2 linked regions of the Homo sapiens genome follow. The protein of the gene in region 2 purifies or fractionates together with the protein of the main gene of each other region. This does not show direct contact. Each region holds a gene or a part of one and is shown on either strand. Other genes may lie near its edges. The genes, in order: MTFMT and TRUB1.

Region 1 (7,984 bases), on a different chromosome or scaffold from region 2:
ATAATAATGCCTTGGCAAAACTTCATCACTTTCAAAAAATTATGCTAGAGACTTCACTATTTCTTAAGAAAATTAAATGATCTCCTGACCCAATCTATGGACAGGCAGTTAAGTGAAGTTCCAACTAAAAATAATAAATGATACAGACTATAACATAGTAAAACAACTATGATAACTTGAAACTAATGAAAAACATACCTTGCAATAAACCAATAGTATTTGTGACTGTTTGTGGTATATTACTGATCCTGGAATAAGAGCCTGTCCCGTTAATTTTGGATCTGAAGAATGGAAAAAAGAAAAGATATACAAGAGAAAAAAGCAATTATGCAACTTCATAGTACTTCTTAAAAATCAAAAAACATCTTGGGAGGCAGTACTGATACCGGAGAGAACACATTTGCTGATGTTGACTTTGTAAACCAAAACTTACAAGGAAACCACAGTGCTCTCTGTACATCAGAAACCCAAAGGAAAGCTTCCCATGCACATACAAAGCTATAATTCCTTTACCCAGTGACCACCTAAAATGCTGAATCTACAAGTTTTGTGTTAGCGCTTTGGTGAAATAACTAGCCAACAGGGGGAAATACATAGGATGTTTAGGATTTAGGCTGGCCCTTTCATCCCTGCCCAAACAAATCCTAATTCCTAGGTTCCTGGGGAACTCCAACTACCTCTAAATTAAACCAGCTTCCTCTGTGGCTCACATTCCTTCTGTCCACCGTATTGGCAGGATGCTGATGGGCCTCAGAATGGACTTGTGGCATGAAGTATGAATACACTCTGGCCTAGATTTTCACTGATTTGCCCAGATATTTTCATTATAATATTCACCAGAATGAAACTAATCGAGTCATTCTGCACTCTCTGAAAACCTTAAGGCAGGAAATCACAGAGCTTAAAATGGGATAGGAACACTGCTTTGCCTACTCCCCAGGGTCCTGTAATGATTTTTTTTTTTTTTTTTTTGAAATGGAGTTTCACTCATTGCCCAGGCTGGAGTGCAGCGGCGCAATCTTGGCTCACTGAAACCTCTGCCTCCCAGGTTCAAGTGACTCTCCTGCCTCAGCCTCCCAAGTAGCTGGGATTACAGGCATGTGCCACCATGCCCAGCTAAATTTTTGTATTTAGTAGAGACGGGGCTTCACCATGTCAGTCAGGCTAGTCTCGAACTCCTGACCTCAGCTGATCCACCCACCTTGGCCTCCCAAAGTGCTGGAATTACAGGCGTGAGCCACCGCGCCTGGCCTGTTCTTGTAATGATTAAATGAGAAAATATATGAGAATGAGTGTTGCAAAGAATAAGACAATAAGTGAATGTAAAGTATTATAATTACTGAACTGAAACAAACTAAAAGTTATTTTTAGTAATTGTGACATATGATAAAACAGACGTATTTCCAGATACACTACAGTGAAAACAGCTTCCATGTTAGCTATTCAAAAGTTAGTACCAGCAAGGACTGAACTGTTAACTTCTACCAAATCCAGAAGTTTAATGGTATTCGCCATCCAGAGCGTCTGCAACGGAATCTGCAAGTAAAATTAAAGAAGGTATGATAAAGGAATACACTCAACTCCCAAACCCTTTTCAACTACTATTTTGTGTTAATCTGGACTTTTCTTTCAATTAGAGGAATTGGGAACTCAGTCACTAAGTTTGATGGAACAGACCGTAAACATGACTCTCTACATCAGTGTTTCCAGGATTTATAAGATCTTTTTTTTTTTTTTTTTGAGACGGAGTCTCGTTGTGTCACCAGGCTGGAGTGCAGTGGCGCGATCTTGGCTCACTGCAAGCTCCGCCTCCCGGGTTCACGCCATTCTCCTGCTTCAGCCTCCCGAGTAGCTGGGACTACAGGCGCCTGCAACCATGCCCGGCTAATTTTTTGTATTTTAAGTAGAGACGGGGTTTCACCATGTTAGCCACGATGGTCTCTATCTCCTGACCTCATGATCCGCCCGCCTTAGCCTCCCAAAGTGCTGGGATTACAGGCGTGAGCCACCGCGCCCGGCCGATTTATAAGATCTTAAATGTTACTTTAAAATCAATGTTTATATCTAATATACTAATATTTCCAATTAAAAATTTATTATCCTTATAAAAAATGCAAGCATTACATTATGTTAAAAAATTTTAGAAAGTGATATTCTGTATTTATTCCCATCCCTATAGGTAACGACTGTTAAGTTTGATGTGCATTTCCCTGTATTTTTTTCTACAAATATTATTATAAAAATCTAGAACACAGTGATAGAGACAGGAGACAGCCAAATGCCACCCAGGTCATTATGCACAGTGGGCTTGACTCAACATGTCCATGGTGAAAAGTTCTGTCCCTTAACACATGCACAGTAAAGGAAATAAATCAAGGTGGCGTGGCTCAGACTAAGGGCCCGCATGAGCACTGGAAGAATGGGGGTGGAGCCACCAGGAATTTCTGCCTTATGCAGGGGAAGAGCCTGGCCTCTTCAGCTCCTGTGTGGTGGCCTGGTATTCAATCTGTGAGGTGGGAGCCTGTTGGCAGGACCCCCTCTTTTTTTGCTGAGAGCTTTCTTTTAATAAATTCCACTCTCCTCACCTTTCAATGTGTCCACGTGCCTAATTTTTCCTGGTTGTGAGACAAGAACCCAGATTTTAGCTGAGTTAAGGAGCAAAAAGTCCTGCATCAATACTGTTTTACAAGGACTTTTGTTATGTGACCATAAAGCATTGATGTTTCATCAGTACATACTTATCAATTTCACTCTATCTGCTGCACAGTAACCCATTTTATGAATATGTAATTTATGCAACTACCTTTATGATAGATATTTGTTATTTTCAATTTATTGCTATTTATAACACTATAAACTAGGGTAATAACCTTGTCGATATATCTTTGAGGGCTTACACATTTCTGGATAATAGTTTTGGGGTTTTTTGTTTTTAAAGTGGAATGCGTGGGTTAAACAGCATCAACATTTTATTGCTAAACTGCCTGGATAAGTGAGAAAAAAATATGATAATCTCTTGCTGTTTATTATTAGCGAAGCTGAGAAGCTGTCCATATATTTATGTGCACTTTTAATTTATTTATCTGTAACCTGCCTATTTATGCCCTTTGGTTATATTTTTTAAAACTGGGATGGTTATCTCATTAATTTGCAAAAATATTTTCTATATTTAGGAAATTAGCCTTTTAACTCTTACATGTGTTGTGAATATTTTCCTCAGTTTGTTGACTTTTAATCTTGGGGACAGCCATTTTTTCCATGCATAAGTTTTTTATTTTCATAATTATATTTCTAAGTCTTTTCTCTCATTACTTTGGTGGTTCGTATCATACTTAAAAAGGCCTACCCCACACTTTAAGATTATTAAATATTGTCAAATTATTCAGTTGTGCTTTTTTATAGTCCTTGTGATTTTACTTTTTATATTTAAATCCTTGATCCATCTATATTTTGATTTTTTTATTATGGTAAAAAACACATAAGAAAAATGTGCTCAATTAACAAATTGTAAGTATACCATACAGTATTGTTAACTACATATGCATTGTTATAATATAGCACTTACTATGATTTTAAAAGATAGGATTTGAGGGCTTCCCCCACCAATGGTTGGCCAGTTATCCCAATACTATTTACTAGATAATCCATCTTACCCTTCCCTCCAGTATGAAATACCACCTTTATCATGTAACACATTTCCAACATACCTGAGATCCTACAGCCTGATTTAAATGTTAATAAAATTTAACACACACCAGGAAATAAGTTCTCTAAAATTTCTGAATTGAATGCATTTATTTCCAGACTGTAGTTCAATCCTCTATTTCATACATGAAGAGAGTGAGGCTCAGAGAAATGCAGCTATTTTCCCAAGGTTGGACCCAGCTAGTTAGTAGCAAAGCCAGGACTGGCTTCTGTTTTCTGATTCTCAGTGCAGTGCTCTTTTTATGACACCCCTTAAAGAGGGTATTTAACTTTCAGAAGAGTTAGGTTGTTGTAATAATTTGAACATTAAATCAAATAAGTAAATGAATTTGAAGAACAAGTTCATAACTGTATCTATGTCATAGCCTCTTCTATAACTTGCTAGCTCACTTTTCTTTTGCCCGCTTCAATAAAAGTTCTGAAACGATTTTCATATGTGCAATTTTTTTCTTTTAAATAACTCAAAATATTTTTGAAACATGCTTACTGACTAAAAAAGATTTCTATTTACTGAGAGTAATAAACATGCTAGGTACATACTCAGAATATAGTCTTGTTCTTCGGGAGGTAAAGCTCACCTTATCATCAGAGCATTGTAGAAAGGAAAGGGATGGTAAGAATATAATCATTTTGGTGTCTGCCATCATTACTGCCAAAATAGTATGTTTGCATGAATTTACATTCACCTAGTTCATTTCCTTTGATCTTGCCAGTTGTGTACATGGTCATTAATCCCACTTTAGAGGTAAAAAAAGCAGAAGCTCAAAGACAAGGGCCTTCCTCTCATTAGTAAAGGGCAACTCTAGGAACCAAACCCCACCTTCTGGCTCAGTCTTTTATAGCACAAAGCTTTTCTCCATGTACAGGGAAGATAAACCGCAGAGGGTAAGAATCATCATGTAGTAAGTTATAGGTGCCAAGAGATTTCAAGCTACTGGCCTAAATTGCATCTCAGGAAGTTGTCTACTTGATATCTCCATATGAACGTCTTCTAACTTAATATATGTCAAACTTAACATGGCCAAAACTATTGATTTCTCTTCCCAAATGTTCCTCCCCAGACATCCTCATCTCAATTAAATGGTTCCACTATTCACCCAGTTTCTCAAGCCAAAAATCTATGAATGATCCTAATTTATCTATCTCTAATTTCCCAGATTCCATCAGCAAATTCCGCTGACTCTATCTCCAAGCATAGTCTGGATGTCCACTTCTTTTTATCCACCATTATCATTGTTCCAAACTGCCATCATCTGTCATCTGGCTACAGTCGCAGCAGCTTCTTTTTATTTTTTTAATTTTTTTTTTTAAAGACCGGATCTTGCTCTGTCATCCAGGCTGGAAGTGCAGTGGTGGAATCACAGCTCACTGCAGCCTCAACCTCCCAGGGTCAAGTGATCCTCCTACCTCAGCCTCCCGAGTAGCTGGGACTACAGGTGCATCCCACAATACCTAGCTAATTTTTGTATATTTTGTAGAGACAGGGTTTCACCATGTTGCCCAGACTGGTCTGGAACTCCAGGGCTCAAGCGATTCACTCTTCTTGGCCTCCCAAAGTGCTGGTATTACAGGTGTGAGCCACCACACCCAACCAATTCCCTAACTGACCTCCACTCCACTCTCTAGCAGCAGCCAGGGCAACCTTTTAAGAATGTACATACCTAATCCCATTACTCCCCTGCCGTGGCCCTCTGATGTCAATCCTACTCAATCTTGCTTCTCCCCTCACCTTAGCTACTCTCCATCTTGCCAGCTATGCTCCAGCCACACCAGCCTCATTTCTGTCCCTCAAACATGTCCAACTCTTTTCCATCTTGGGTTGTTTTTTTGTTTTGTTTTGTTTTTTGACAGCTTTATTGAGATGTAATTCACATACCAGAAAATTCACCCTTTTGAAGCTTCCAAGTCAGTGGTTTTTAGTAGACTCAGGGTCATTCAACCAATGTCACTCGTTTTTTTCTTGCCTAATTTTTAGAACATTTTCATTACCTCTCTCTCCCAGAAAAAACGCCATCCATTATCAGAAAATTCCCATTATCCTCTCTCCTCCAGCCTATGGATTTGCCTATTTTGGACATTTCATATAAATGGAATAATAACATATGTAGTCTGTTGTGACAGGGTTTTTTCACTTAGCATATTTTTCAGGTTCATCCATGTCATAAGCATGTGATTATGGTTATGGCTGAGTATTAATAATATTCCACCGTATGGCTATATACCACATTTTTTTAACGCATCCCTCAGTTGGATATTTGGGTTGTTTTCACTTTTTGGCCATTCTGAATAATGCTGCTATGAAGATTCGGGTACACATTTTTGTGTGAGCACAATGTTTCCAATTCTCTTGAGTATAAACCTAGGAAAGGAAATGCTGGGTCATAAGATACTTCTGTGTTTCACTTTTTGAGGAACTGCCAAACTGTTTTCCACACAGGTTGCACCATTTTTAAGAGGTAAACATGGTACCATGAATGTATGAAGTTTCCAAATTTCTCCACATCCTTGCCAACACTAGTTTTTGTCTGTTTTTTGAATTATAGCCATCCTAATGGGTGTGAAGTGGTATCTCATTGTGGTTCTGATTTGCATATCCCTAAAGACAGATGAAGTTGCTGATCTTTTATATGCTTACTGGCCATTCATATTATGTATCTGCTTGAAACAAATGTCTACTCAGGGCCAGGGCAGTGGCTCATGCCTGTAATCCCAGCACTTAGGGAGGCTGAGGCAGGTGGATCACCTGAGGATAGGAGTTCGAGACCAGCCAGGTCAACATGGTGAAACCCCGTCTCTACTAAAAGTACAAAAATTAGCCGGGCGTGGTGGCGCTTGCCTATAATCCCAGCTACTAGGGAGGCTGAGGCAGGAGAATCGCTTGAATCCAGGAGGCAGAGGTTGCAATGAGCCAAGGTCGCACCATTGCACTCCAGCCTGGGCAACAAGAGCAAGACTCCATCTCAAAAACAAACAAAAAAGAAATGTTTACTCAGAATTTTTGGCCATTTTTAATTGGGTTATTTGTCGTTTTACTGCTGAGTCATTGTAAGAATTCTTTACTCTGGATATTAGGCCCTTATCAGTTATATGATTTGCAAATATTCCCTCCCATTCTGTAAGCTGTCTTTTTTTTTTTTTTTTTTTTTTTTTTTTGAGACAGGGTCTCACTTTGTCACCCAGGATGAAACACAGTAGTGCAATCACAGCTCACTGCAGCCTCGACCTCCCTGGCTCAAGTGCATCCTCCCATTCCAGCCTCCCAAGTAGCTAGGACCACAGGTGTGCACCATGATGCCCAGCTAATTTTTTACTTTTTGTAATGATGGGGACTCACTACATTGCCCAGTCTGGTCTCAAATTCTTGGGTTCAAGCAGTCCTCCTGTCTCAGCCTCCCAAAGTGCTGGGATTATAGGCATGAGCCACCATGCCTGGCCTACCTGTCTTTTTTACTTTGTTGATAGTGTCCTTTGAAGCACAACTATTTTTAATTTTGATGAAGTCCAATTTCTCTATTTTTAGTCTGATTGCTTATGCTTCATGGCATCATAGCTAAGAAACCACTGCCTAATTCAATGTCATGAATATTTACACCTATATTTTCTTCTAAGAGTTTTCTAGTTTTAGCTATTCATTTAGCTTCTTTAACTTTTACATATGATGTGACATAGGGTCCAAATTCATTCTTTTGATTGTGGACATCCAGTTATCCCAGCTCCATTTATTGAGAATACTATTCTTTCTCCATTGGATTGTCTTGGCACTCTTGTCAAAAAAAAAAAAAAAAAAAAAAAAAAAAAAGGTGGGTGGGAGGGGAGAGGGATAGCATTAGGAGATATACCTCATGTAAATGATGAGTTAATGGGTACAGCACACCAACATGGCACATGTATACATATGTAACAAACCTGCACATTGTGCACATGTACCCTAGAACTTAAAGTATAATAATAATAATAATAATAAAAAGAACTATCTTTTGGGAACTACCTTTAGAAAAAAAAATCAATTGACCATAAATGTATGGGTTTATTTCTAGACTTTTAAAAAAATTTGAGACAGAGTCTCACTCTGTCACCCAGGCTGGAGTGCAGTGGTGTGATCTCAGGTCACTGCAACCTCCACCTCCCAGGTTCAAGTGATTCTCGTGCCTTAGCCTCCTGAGTAGCTGGGACTACAAGCGTGCACCACCATATCTGGCTAATTTTTGTAAATATTTTTAGTAGAGATGAGGTTTCACCATGTTGGCCAGGCTGGTCTCAAACTCCTGACCTCAAGTGA
Region 2 (11,315 bases):
AAAAAAGTTTTCTTAAACAGGACACCAAAAGGACCAACCATAAAGGAGAAGGCCTGATAAGCTGGACTAAATTAAAACTAAGAACTTGTGTTTTTCAAAAGACAAGAGAGGAAAAAGGCAAGCCACAAAGTAAGAGAAAATATCTGCAACACACATAGGCAAAAGAAGAGAACATATCCAGACTATATAAAGAACCTATGCATCCTCGAATGGAAGGTGCTTAATAAAAAACAAAAACTCATACAAATGTATAAGAAAAAGGCAACTCAAAAGGGAAAGAAAAAACAAAAAATGGGTAAGAGACCTGAACAGACAATACAAAAAAGAAGATGGCTAATAAGCCAAAAACACTTAATAAGGTGCCAAATCTCATCAATAATCAAATTAAAACCACAATGGAATTATCACTACACACTCACCAGAACAGCCAAAATTAAAAACACTATTAATAGCTAAGTATGTGGGGCAAGTGGAATGCTTATGCACTCCTAGTGGAAATGCAAAGTTTTCCAAGTACAATCACTTTGGACAACTGTTTGACAATTTCCAGTACAGTTAAATATACACCCACTCTATAACCCAGGAACACATGCAGGCACACACGTGCACACGCACACACACACACACACACACACACGACCTATATTCCACTTGGGTATATACCCAAAAGAAATGACGGTAGAAATGTGTCTACCAAAAGGCAGGTATAAAATATACACAGCACTTTATTCACAAAGCCCCAAACTGGGAGAGTATGTGTGTAGTATATTCACACAGTGGCATACTACATAGCAACAAAAAAGTCCAAAATACTCATACATGTACCAACATGGATCTCAAAAATATAATAAGTGGAAGAATTTAGACACCAAAGGACACATAGTGTTTAATTCCATTTATACTAAATTCAAAAACAGGCAAAACTATGCCTTAGTTTTAAAACCATCTCCATAGCATTGGATGTTAGAACAGTAGTTATCTTTGCAAAAGGAGGACAGGGTAATGACAGATAGGGCACAAGTGTGGTTTCTAGCAATCTTCTATTTCTTGACTAAGGGTGATAGCTAGCTACAGATATTTGTCTTGTGCAAATTGATAGAGCTGTACCTTTATTTTTTGTTCAGTTTTCTTTACTTGTACATTTTATAATGAAAAGTTTAAATGCAAACAGCTTTGTAAGAATTTTTATACCCAGCTACACACTAGTCCAATTATAGCATATACCCTATTGGTTCATATCACAATTTGAAACTAAATTCAACTCTTGAGCTTACTCCAGGATAAGTCTCAGCAGCCAAACCATATACAGTCCAAGAGGAGACAGTACCATTAGATACAACATCAGCTACGTCCATTTGAGAAGACCTTGGTAACATCTGATCTCAGGACTAAGGGGTGGTGGTGTTTAGAATAAAAGATTAGCATGAGATTCCACTTTTCTTTCTACCTTTGTTGACTCATGGGAGGGACAGAAAAAACTACTCCCAGTACAGGGACAGTTAGGCCTTCCCGGATGCTTGGTCCACATCTAGCCTGGGAAGCTATGGTCTTAGTGTCCTTAGCTCAGCGGAGAACAGATGAGCACACTGAAGCTGTGTGTCCTCAGAGACACTGGCAATAGTAGCAGACACTTAATACCTAGATGTGGATGAGAAGACAGCAGCAGAAGGCAGGAAGATGCTTTGCCTTTCCCGGCTTATCTGCAGTCATCTTTTCTGAGAATGCCTCTGCTGCCTATCTTTTTTGATTCAAACTCTATATGTCATATATGTCATTCTGTATGCCGTATACCACACCAAAAATACACTACTGAGGACCAAAAGAGACATGGTTTCAGCCTCATGGCTGAAATACACCTGCATGACTATCTGGCAGACATCCTGAAGTCTGACAGTACACAGGACAATTCTTCATTGTGTTCTACGATCCTCTGTGTTACAGGACATCTGTCATCCCTGGTCTCCACCCACTGAAGGCAGCTGGTGTCACCACCCCACCCAGTCATTGTAACAACTAGAAACACAGTTTTTAATTGACCTGTCAAGAACAACTGATGTTGGCTAAAGTAACTCAGTATGCAGTCAATGGCAAATTAATGTTCTTAAGTCATTTTGTCCTATCTAGACAAATACTATTTTTAACTGTTATTTCAGACAGCTGAAAGCTAGCTCAGAGGAATAAGAAAATGAGTCTCTGGCTTAGACTCAAACATCAAAGCATGTAACAGGGCCTTTCCCTTTGTTCTCTATCATAACACTCTATTATTCCTAAATAGCATTTTTCACTATTTACAATTATGCTGTATGTTTGAGTGCTGATCAGGAGTTCAAGACCAGCCTGGCCAACAAAGTGAAACCCTGCCTCTACTAAAAATGCAAAAAATAGTCAGGCATGGTGGTGCATGCCTGTAGTCCCAGCTACTCAGGAGGCTGAGGCAGAAGAATCACTTGAACCCAGGAAGCAGAGGTTACAGTGAGCCAAGAGTGCACCACTGCACCCCAGCCAAAAGACTTTTAGTCTGCTAATATCTGTGTGCTTACATATGAATGCACCTACTTTATTATAAATTACTTTTATTTCTTACTTATATTCCATTTACTACATCATATTGATTTTTCTCAATGTATAAGTAAATTCAAGTATCTCTGAATTTTATTTCAGGATAGTAAAGAAGGCATTATAAGATATTGGTCATAGGTCTCTGTATTAGGTCTCAGAAGGCTGAGAATATTGGTCAGAGTTCTCCATTAGACAGTAAGTTCCTTAAGGACACAAGCTAGGTCTTACATTTATCTATCTTTCCCTTGGTACCTGCTATAGCAGCTTCAACAAATAAAAAATATTTGTTGATTTACTGAAAGCACACAGAAAAATCATGCCAATCAGCAAAATTCTCTGAGCTCTCATTTTCCGGGACTATAAATACTATTCAATAAACTGTAGGAAGCTCTTCTCTTCACAGCCTGAAAAACGTTCTTAGTTTCTCTATGATTTACTGCATCATTACAATGAGATGATTTAACAAACTGAGCTTTCTTTAAGGTAAGTAAATAAGGTTACAAATTACCTAATACAGCATAGAGCTTTTTAAAATACTAAAATGCTTAAGAATAGGAAGAAAGGATATGTTTAAGTATTTTTGTCACCCTGGGCCCCTTCCAGCATCCTCAATGAATTACACTATCATGTAACCAATTTTAAAACCCCAAAACCTAGGTCATGGTTGACAACTTCCTCGCTATCCTGTCCAATCAACTAAAAATCAAGTCTTGCTAATTTTACTTCCTAATCATGGGAAATTTTTCTAATAGGAAAACTCTGTCTCTACCACTGGCACCCTGGTCCAACTTACCATCATCTCTGCTTGGACTACTATAAGAGCCTCATGACTTGTCTATGAGACCTCCAAATTCATTCTCCTCCAATCAATCCTCATAATCACACTATGAGGTTGCTATCATTATTGTCATTTTGGAGATGGAAAAACTACAACATAAAGAGACTAAGAAAATTTCAAATTTGCGCAGCTAGATAAGGGCAGAGCTAGAAATTAAACCCAGATTTGTCTACTCTAGTGCGCCTTATATTTTTCACCACGTGGTACCCACACCCCCCAGCCTTAATTATATTACCCCAGGACTACTGTTCTGAATAATAATCATTCTCCTTATTATGGTTTGGTAAATGGAGTCAGAGATACAGGAGACTTAATTACATAAGTACTTATAAATACTTTAGTATCCTCTGGAAGTCTCTGACGTCCTCCTATTGCCCTATGCCTCCTTAATCTTAAAGTCTTCTGGTTGAAGGTTATAGCTGGCTTTCAGTTAAGTGAGGGTCTGCTATTATTTATTAATAATAATAATTCCAAGAATATTTCAACATCTGTTTTTGAAAAGCCTTGAAATCAATCAGTAATTTTTCTTTTCATTATGTTGCTTGATTAATTGAGCAAGATACTAAGCTACATATAAATGTTAACAGAAAAAATGAAGCTATTATGAACAATAAAAAGGTTGGCCTCACTACTGGGGCAATATGCAGTACGTAATAAGGATAATCAACACAAAAATATAAGGGGGCCAAATGCTGGCTTGCCTATGACTAAGAGATAACACTAAACAAAAAAACAGTCCACAAATTGGTGACATAATGATGCAGGTGAACTGACTTAGAAAACTGCAATTGCTGCATTATAAACAGCATAAGCACTGTGAGAGTTGCTAGGAGACCATTTAATTTATCTATTCTTCCTTACGGTAGTGAAAGAAGGGATAGTAGGAAACTTAAGGTGGGCCCCAGTGAGTTCTGGTTTACTTCCAGAGAAATAGCTTGCCCTCTGTCCTCTTTTTACATAGTCCGAAAGCACAAAAACATGACAAGTTTTAAAGTACTAAACCTGGTACATTTATTTCAACAGCTGACAGGTAATATATTTTTTTTTAATGGCAAGACAGATGAAATCTAACAGAGTATCTCTGCTTTGTTTCTCGTTTACTAGGGAAAATAACCTAAATCCTAGCCATACATGCTTTTGCAAGGAGGTTATTTGGAAGAATAATTCTGAACACTTAAAACATCACTATAGAAAAAGAGGCAATCACAATAAATCTTTATTCAAAAACTCCTATCAAGTAAGCAACAATGCGATAAACAATTTCCAATCTTCTTAGCCCAAAGAAACACACTGAGAATTAAAATGGCTGATAATATCAGAGATTTGTTTTAAAATGCTACCTGCACAGAAACTTTTCCTAAATGTTAGAAAAGAGGCCTACATTAGATGAGCTTCATACCGTAAGGTTTTTCTTCTGTTACCCTCCCCGTAGAATCTAGTGTATCAGTAGCTTTCCCCAGTTCTCCAATGGCAGTATATCTCTAGAGGAAGGGAAACAAGAGAGAAAATGGGCCGTGAGGCAAACAAAAACTGTTATGCATGTCTTGAAGTTTACACAGAATTTCACTACTACTACCAACCTGATACAAAATACAGGCTAAAACAACAGACTGCAATTGTTTTGTTTTTAATATGTGGAAAGCAATTGTGTAAACTGAAGAACATTAACAAACGTCTCACACTAGCCAATATGAGAAAGATAAACCTGATTTTATTGATAATTATGGCTTAATAATTATGACCATTATTATTGTAAGCAAATTTCTCAAACCACCTTTATACTGAGAAGTTTGTTTAAGGAAAATGTTCAAGTCTATCCATGAGTAGAGAGAATGGTACAATAGCCTTGACTCCATGGTCATCATAAGATTCAATAATCTTCCCACATATACAATTAAAATTAATTTTAAATAAGCCAACTTAGTACTTCTTACATGAAATACTAAGACAATTCTTAGTAACTAGGTCATGTATTAAACAAAAGCTAAATCTGTAGAAAAAGAGCAAAACCAGTATAGTCACAGAATTAGTGACTTAACTATTAAATGTGTTTTTTGTTTGTTTGTTTGTTTGAGATGGAGTTTTGCTCGCTGCCCAGGCTGCAGTGCAGTGGTGCGATCTCGGCTCACTGCAACCTCCGTCCCCCGGGTTCAAGCGATTCTCCTGCCTCACCCTGTGGAGTAGCTGGGATTACAGGCACCCGCCACCACGCCCGGCTAATTTTTTGTATTTTTAGTAGAGATGGGGTTTCACCATGTTGTCAGGCTGGTCTCGAACTTCTGACCTCAGGTGATCCACCCACCTCGGCCTCCCAAAGCCAAAGTGCTAGGATTACAGGCGTGAGCCACCACGCCCGGCCATGTGTTTTCTTAATAAAGATAAATTACTACTTAAGATCTCAGGAACAAGAATCGTTTCTAAGAACTGATCTTTATTCACAAGTGAAGAATTAGATCATTCTTAGTTACGTGAGGATTGTCTTATTTCTCATCTTAGGACACACTTGTAGTACGTACTCTTTTCACTTTGGTCAAACGCAAATTTTATTTGGGGCATCACATGAAGTAGTGAAAAAAGTGCAAGAACTTTATTTCCCACTGAAAATAATCTGTATTTATGTGAGCAATTTTATAAAAGAAAACTCAAAGTACTTTGCAGAAATATAAGCTTATTCATGACAAATTTATGAGGCTAGTGAAGGGACCCAAGACAAAAATGAGAAAAATATTAAAACTTCAAAACCTTGTAAGTATGCAGACATTTTATAACAGCTTAAGGCCCTTCGATGAAATCACCTTAATATTATCTAGCTCAGATTTTTTAAAAATAAATATAATACAGAAGGGAATATTCCAACGCATTTCAATTAATTTTTTTAAAGTTTCATAGGTATTGACAAAAATTAGTTTTTTGTAACTAAACACAGTCTCATCACCTGAGACACCCATTCCTGCTTCTATATTTTGGGACAATCAACCTCGACTAAGCATACCACAGGGGGAAGTATGAGAGAAGTACAACAATGGTAACAGCACAGGCTCAGGGTCAACTGGCTGGATTTGAATTCTGACTGTACCACAATTTGTAGACCAAGTTAGTCTTTCCGGCTGGAGCTTAATTTCCTTATCTTAAAATGTGGAAAACAATAATGCCTCATGAGAAGAAGCAAAGAGTTTAGAGTAACAATATCTAGCCCTGGTAAATAACAGATAATAATACCATCATCATCTTTATTTTCTAAGAAAGAAAATACAGAATGATTCGCAGTTAACAGTGGCTAGAGTTGACTCATCTGGTTACAGTCAGCTCCCATAAGGAAAGCAAAGCATCAAAATGCTTTATGATTTTTTTGTCTTTAGAGTCTGTTTAGTTGCATAAGAAAACCATGGTGCAATCTTGCAGACTATGCCTTGAATGTATCTGCAGTATTCTGCTCTGCAACGAGTTTGAACTAGGAACCTTAACATGTTTCCCAAGTATGCAATGCCCATTCTAGTCTCTGGACTCTTGGTGTTTTGTGCACCTGGGGCACATATGCCACTTCCCTGGCCTTGAACTCCCACTCTTCTCTAAGGATCAAACCTTATTCAGCTTTCAAAGCCACCCCTTAATCCATCCCAACTTCCATTTACCCACCTCCACAGCATGACTAAGAGTAGGTGCTCGATACAAATTCCATACATAGAAAGAAGGAAGGCATATATCAAATCCACAAATTCGATCATGTTTCTTAAGGACTATGAATGTCCAAAGTATTCTCCTAAGTGCTAGGGAAGGATACACAGATACATAAGATAGATTGCTCTCCCTCTAAGAGGTTACAGTGTAACAGGAAAACTTCAATAAACACAACTACTGCAGAGAGGACTGGATATAATGGCAACAACAGACATGTCTGGTTTATCTCACTGAGCTCTCATATCACACATATCACACATCTTAGCACATGATGACCTACAGAGATATTCACTGTTTTCCAAGTATACTTTATTGATCCTTACTTTCTGCAAGTATGAACTCTCAGCTAGAGTTTCCCATTGCTCATCTATTGTGTTCTTTCCTAAATAGAAACACAGTAGCAGCTTAATAAAAAGTTGCTGACAGAATGATACACATGCTAGAGAAGTGCCTATGTGTGCAATTCTTCACATTTCACCATAGTTTTGAATATCTAGATTTCATCTGCTAAGTCTCAACCCACTCCAGGGTCTGCAATTATATTGTATGTAGCTACGTGCTGGATTCTTTTTAGGGGAGACAATATCTAAATCAACATTCTCAAATCAAATCAAATCAAAATGTTCTCAAACATTTTGCTTTCAGAACTCCTATACACACTTAAAACTTATTGAGAAACCCTGGCACACATTTTTTAAAAACATGTTATATCTGCCTAGATTTATTGTATTAGAAATTAAAGCTGAAAAATGTTTAAAACTTCCATTAGCCATCAGAGCAATGATGTCATTGCACATCTAGTAATCTCTGAAAAACTCTACCATGTATTTGTGGGATTGCAAGTTAAAAAGGCAAAACTATGAAAATAGTTTCAATTTCAACAGACACCCTGAAAGAGTCTCAGGAGTCCTTAGACCACACCCTGCGAACCGATGATTGAAATCAGCTGTCTCCTAGCTTTCCCTTGTCCTGGCATCTAGTTATAATTATCCTTCAATTTTATTCAATTATCCACAAACCATTTAGAAAAATTCACCCACACAGTTAAGCCTTCAGCTGAAACAAAGCCTCACGACCAAAAAGATATTGGGATAGAAGAAAAAAGACATGGAGATACACACATTCAACCCTAACATTTTATCTTATGGAGTCTAAAATATTTCTTTTCACTGGCTTAAATTCTACGTAGAGTCTGTGCTTTGGAGTTGTTAATTCTCCAAGACGTATACCTGGGAACCGTGAATTCTACTACTGTATTCATTACAATGTAATTCTACTGCAACAAAAGAGAGGTCCTGAAGAACATTCCATTGACCTGTGTACTCTCTGGGACTCACAGTTTCTCACTGGTATTATTCTACTCTCTACTTTACTCATCGTCAAGCTCCCTAAACCCCACAGCAGGTATTAGCTAGACATCTCTAGCAGCAAATCAGCTTCTGTTCTGTTTAGGAGAAAGAAAAATGTTTCTACTACAGAAAGTATACACACAATCATTTCCTTGGATCTCAACTGAGGTGTGATTTTGAAAGCTTGTGATTTAAACCTTCACAAACAAAATAGGGATATTACTGAGGATGAGAAAGAACACTTTTTAAAAAACCTATCAAACCAAAAACATGTGGCTTTGAATGTCTTCATTAAGAAGGAACAGTCCTTTTTTATAGTTCATAAGTATAAGCCCTTTAAAATTTTCAATACAGTATTTATGAAATATATGAAAATTAATAGCGTATATAGAAAAGGTACAAACTGGACTAGCCTCTGGAGAAAACTGATTAGAAATGCTGAAATCTTCAAGAGTTGGCTAAGTTTCATAGGAGCATTACTCAAGCCACACTTTAGAGTTCTCATAACTGGTTAACCTAAAAATGTTACTGTGTTCTTGGGGAAAGTTACTATCCTTTGACCACACCAAGAAGGGGAAACTTCATTCACTCCAATGATGACACTTGTTTAACTACTGGAGGGGGATACAAAGTTGCCTTCTGAGGAGATGCTGGCTTTGCCTGCAGGTGCCACTATGGTTTACCTGCACAGAGATATGGAGGTACCTTTATATCTGGACATGCTAGTTAGATTATTCAGGTTTTCATAACCTTTCCATCTGGTTTCTAAAGCATTTATAAAGTAACCAACTTTGATCAACAATATAGAAAACTAATAAAGACAGCACTCCAAAACCTCATCTGTTTTCTTCTGTTCCTTCTGTCTGTTCCTTCAAAGTACGACATCTGCTATCCAGCTTTTGCTGAATGACTGGCTCAAAGAAAGTGTAATTTAGGGAAGATATAAGAGGGGCTATTTGCCCTCCTCTAGGTAAGCAACGTTTTATACTTAGATCAACTTAGGCCAAAGGAACACATCAGCCTAACCTCTCAGAATTTTACCTAAACTGTATTTTATGTAGCTCCATTTCTACATCTGTTGTAAAACTATTTTTGAAAATCACCATCTATCTGTCATTTAATATCTCTTATTGTCAGAAACTTCTTTCTGGCTTTAATGTCCAAGGAAAGTCTGTCTCTCCCTTAAAGAACTGGCATGCTTTCTCTTTCTGATGAGTGCAATATTTTGCCTACATCACCAGCAATCACAGATAGCCATGAAAAAAAAAAAAGAAATTAACTGTATTCAAGAGTTCCAACAGAACTTGCCTGAGTAAAATTAATTTCAGGTGTCTACAGAACATGTGGCTAGAAAGCTCCAACAGGCCTGGACCTCAAGAGAGAGACTTGGGGATAAGTAAAATACTTGGGAATAGTAATAACAGTATTTAATGAGCAATTTCCATACACAAGGCACTGTACAAAAAGTTCACATGCTTTTCACACACATTATACACATAATCCTAAATGATCAGGCACAGGGAAAAAAAAAAAGACTTGAGAAATATGATCACTGGCAGAACAAAGCTCACTCCAAGGCAGGAGAGGAAGACAATGAGGAACACAGAGCAGTGGCTCTTTTCTTAACTTTTACCCTGATCTGAATGGGAGGAAATGCAAGAAATGATTTGGGTGGTCTGATTAGTGTCTAGTCTTCACAGATGGAAGCAAAATAATGTGATGGCCTAAAGATTTTACTTAAAAGCCAGAATTTCATCTAGTAAGTGACAGTAGTTGTATGAAGTGGCACCATGTTGAAGAAGATTCTAAGGGTGTTTCTTGATTCAGCAAGAAGAAATGTTAGGCCATGTTCAATTAGCAATATCTCCAATTACGACTGGCTAGGGAGAGAAGGCTGTTCTGTAATATGGCTGTAACAAGAACACTGAATATTTGCCATCCTAGAACTAAATATTTCTACTCTTGACGTAACTCCATCCTACACATACCAGAAGTCTAATTTTTCTAGTTGCACTGTGATGCAAATAAAAATTCATCTGTCAAAATAGGAAGTGAAGAAAAAGTGGACATTAGATCTGGGCCAAGTTAGGGGGCTGCAGCCACATTTTTTTTTTTAATGAAATAGAAGGAAAAGTATCAAGAATACATCATACATAGGGTTAGAGTTGGATAAAGTTTGGATGTCTGCCCCCTCCAAATCTCATGTTGAAATATAATCCCCAGTGTTGGAGGTGGGGCATGGTGGGAATTGTCTGGGTTATGAGGGCGGATCCTGCATTAATTGCTTGGTGCCCTCCCTGCAATGAGTTCACGCGAGATCTGGCTGTTTAAAAGAGCCTGGCACCTCCGCCTCTCTCTCTGTCACTCCCTCTCTCACCATGCGACATGGCCACAAGTGTAAGCTTCCAGAGGCCCTCACCAGAAGCAGATACCAGTACCTTGTTTCTTGTACAGACTTCAGAACCATGAGCCAAATGAACCTCTTTTCTTTATAAATTACCCAGCCTCGACTACTCCTTTACAGCAACACAAACAGACTAACACAAAGTTGTTTGATAAAATTTTTCCTTTTCATAAATGTATGTATCTATATGGTCATTACATAAAATATGTTTCTTACTATGGGTCTTAGTCAAAAAAATTTTGAAAGTCACTAGATAAGATGATCTCTAAGATTCCTTCTAGTGCTTTTAAAAAAAGAAAAAATATTTATTAACAGTTTTTAACTACTTTTTATTAAAAAATAATCTTCAACATTAAACTCTTAATGATTTAGTTCTTTTAACAGGTACATAAAATTAAAAGGATAAGAAATATAAATAGCTAACAAGACAACGATGCCTATTTTTGAAATACCTAAGAACTAGGTTTCTGTAACAAGACGTGCCTGT

What was found.
Region 1: the proteins of TRUB1 (region 2) and MTFMT purify together in Homo sapiens (affinity purification with mass spectrometry; 2 studies listed by BioGRID and IntAct, with this or other methods). This does not show direct contact.

The regions. Positions count from the first base shown.
Region 1 is NC_000015.10:65,004,656-65,012,639, forward strand, and holds part of MTFMT (methionyl-tRNA formyltransferase, mitochondrial), read right to left. Parts: intron 1,537-7,984; coding exon 1,458-1,536; intron 282-1,457; coding exon 199-281; intron 1-198. UniProt on the Homo sapiens protein: Methionyl-tRNA formyltransferase that formylates methionyl-tRNA in mitochondria and is crucial for translation initiation.
Region 2 is NC_000010.11:114,953,289-114,964,603, reverse strand, and holds part of TRUB1 (pseudouridylate synthase TRUB1), read right to left. Parts: intron 4,879-11,315; coding exon 4,797-4,878; intron 1-4,796. UniProt on the Homo sapiens protein: Pseudouridine synthase that catalyzes pseudouridylation of mRNAs and tRNAs. Mediates pseudouridylation of mRNAs with the consensus sequence 5'-GUUCNANNC-3', harboring a stem-loop structure. Constitutes the major pseudouridine synthase acting on mRNAs.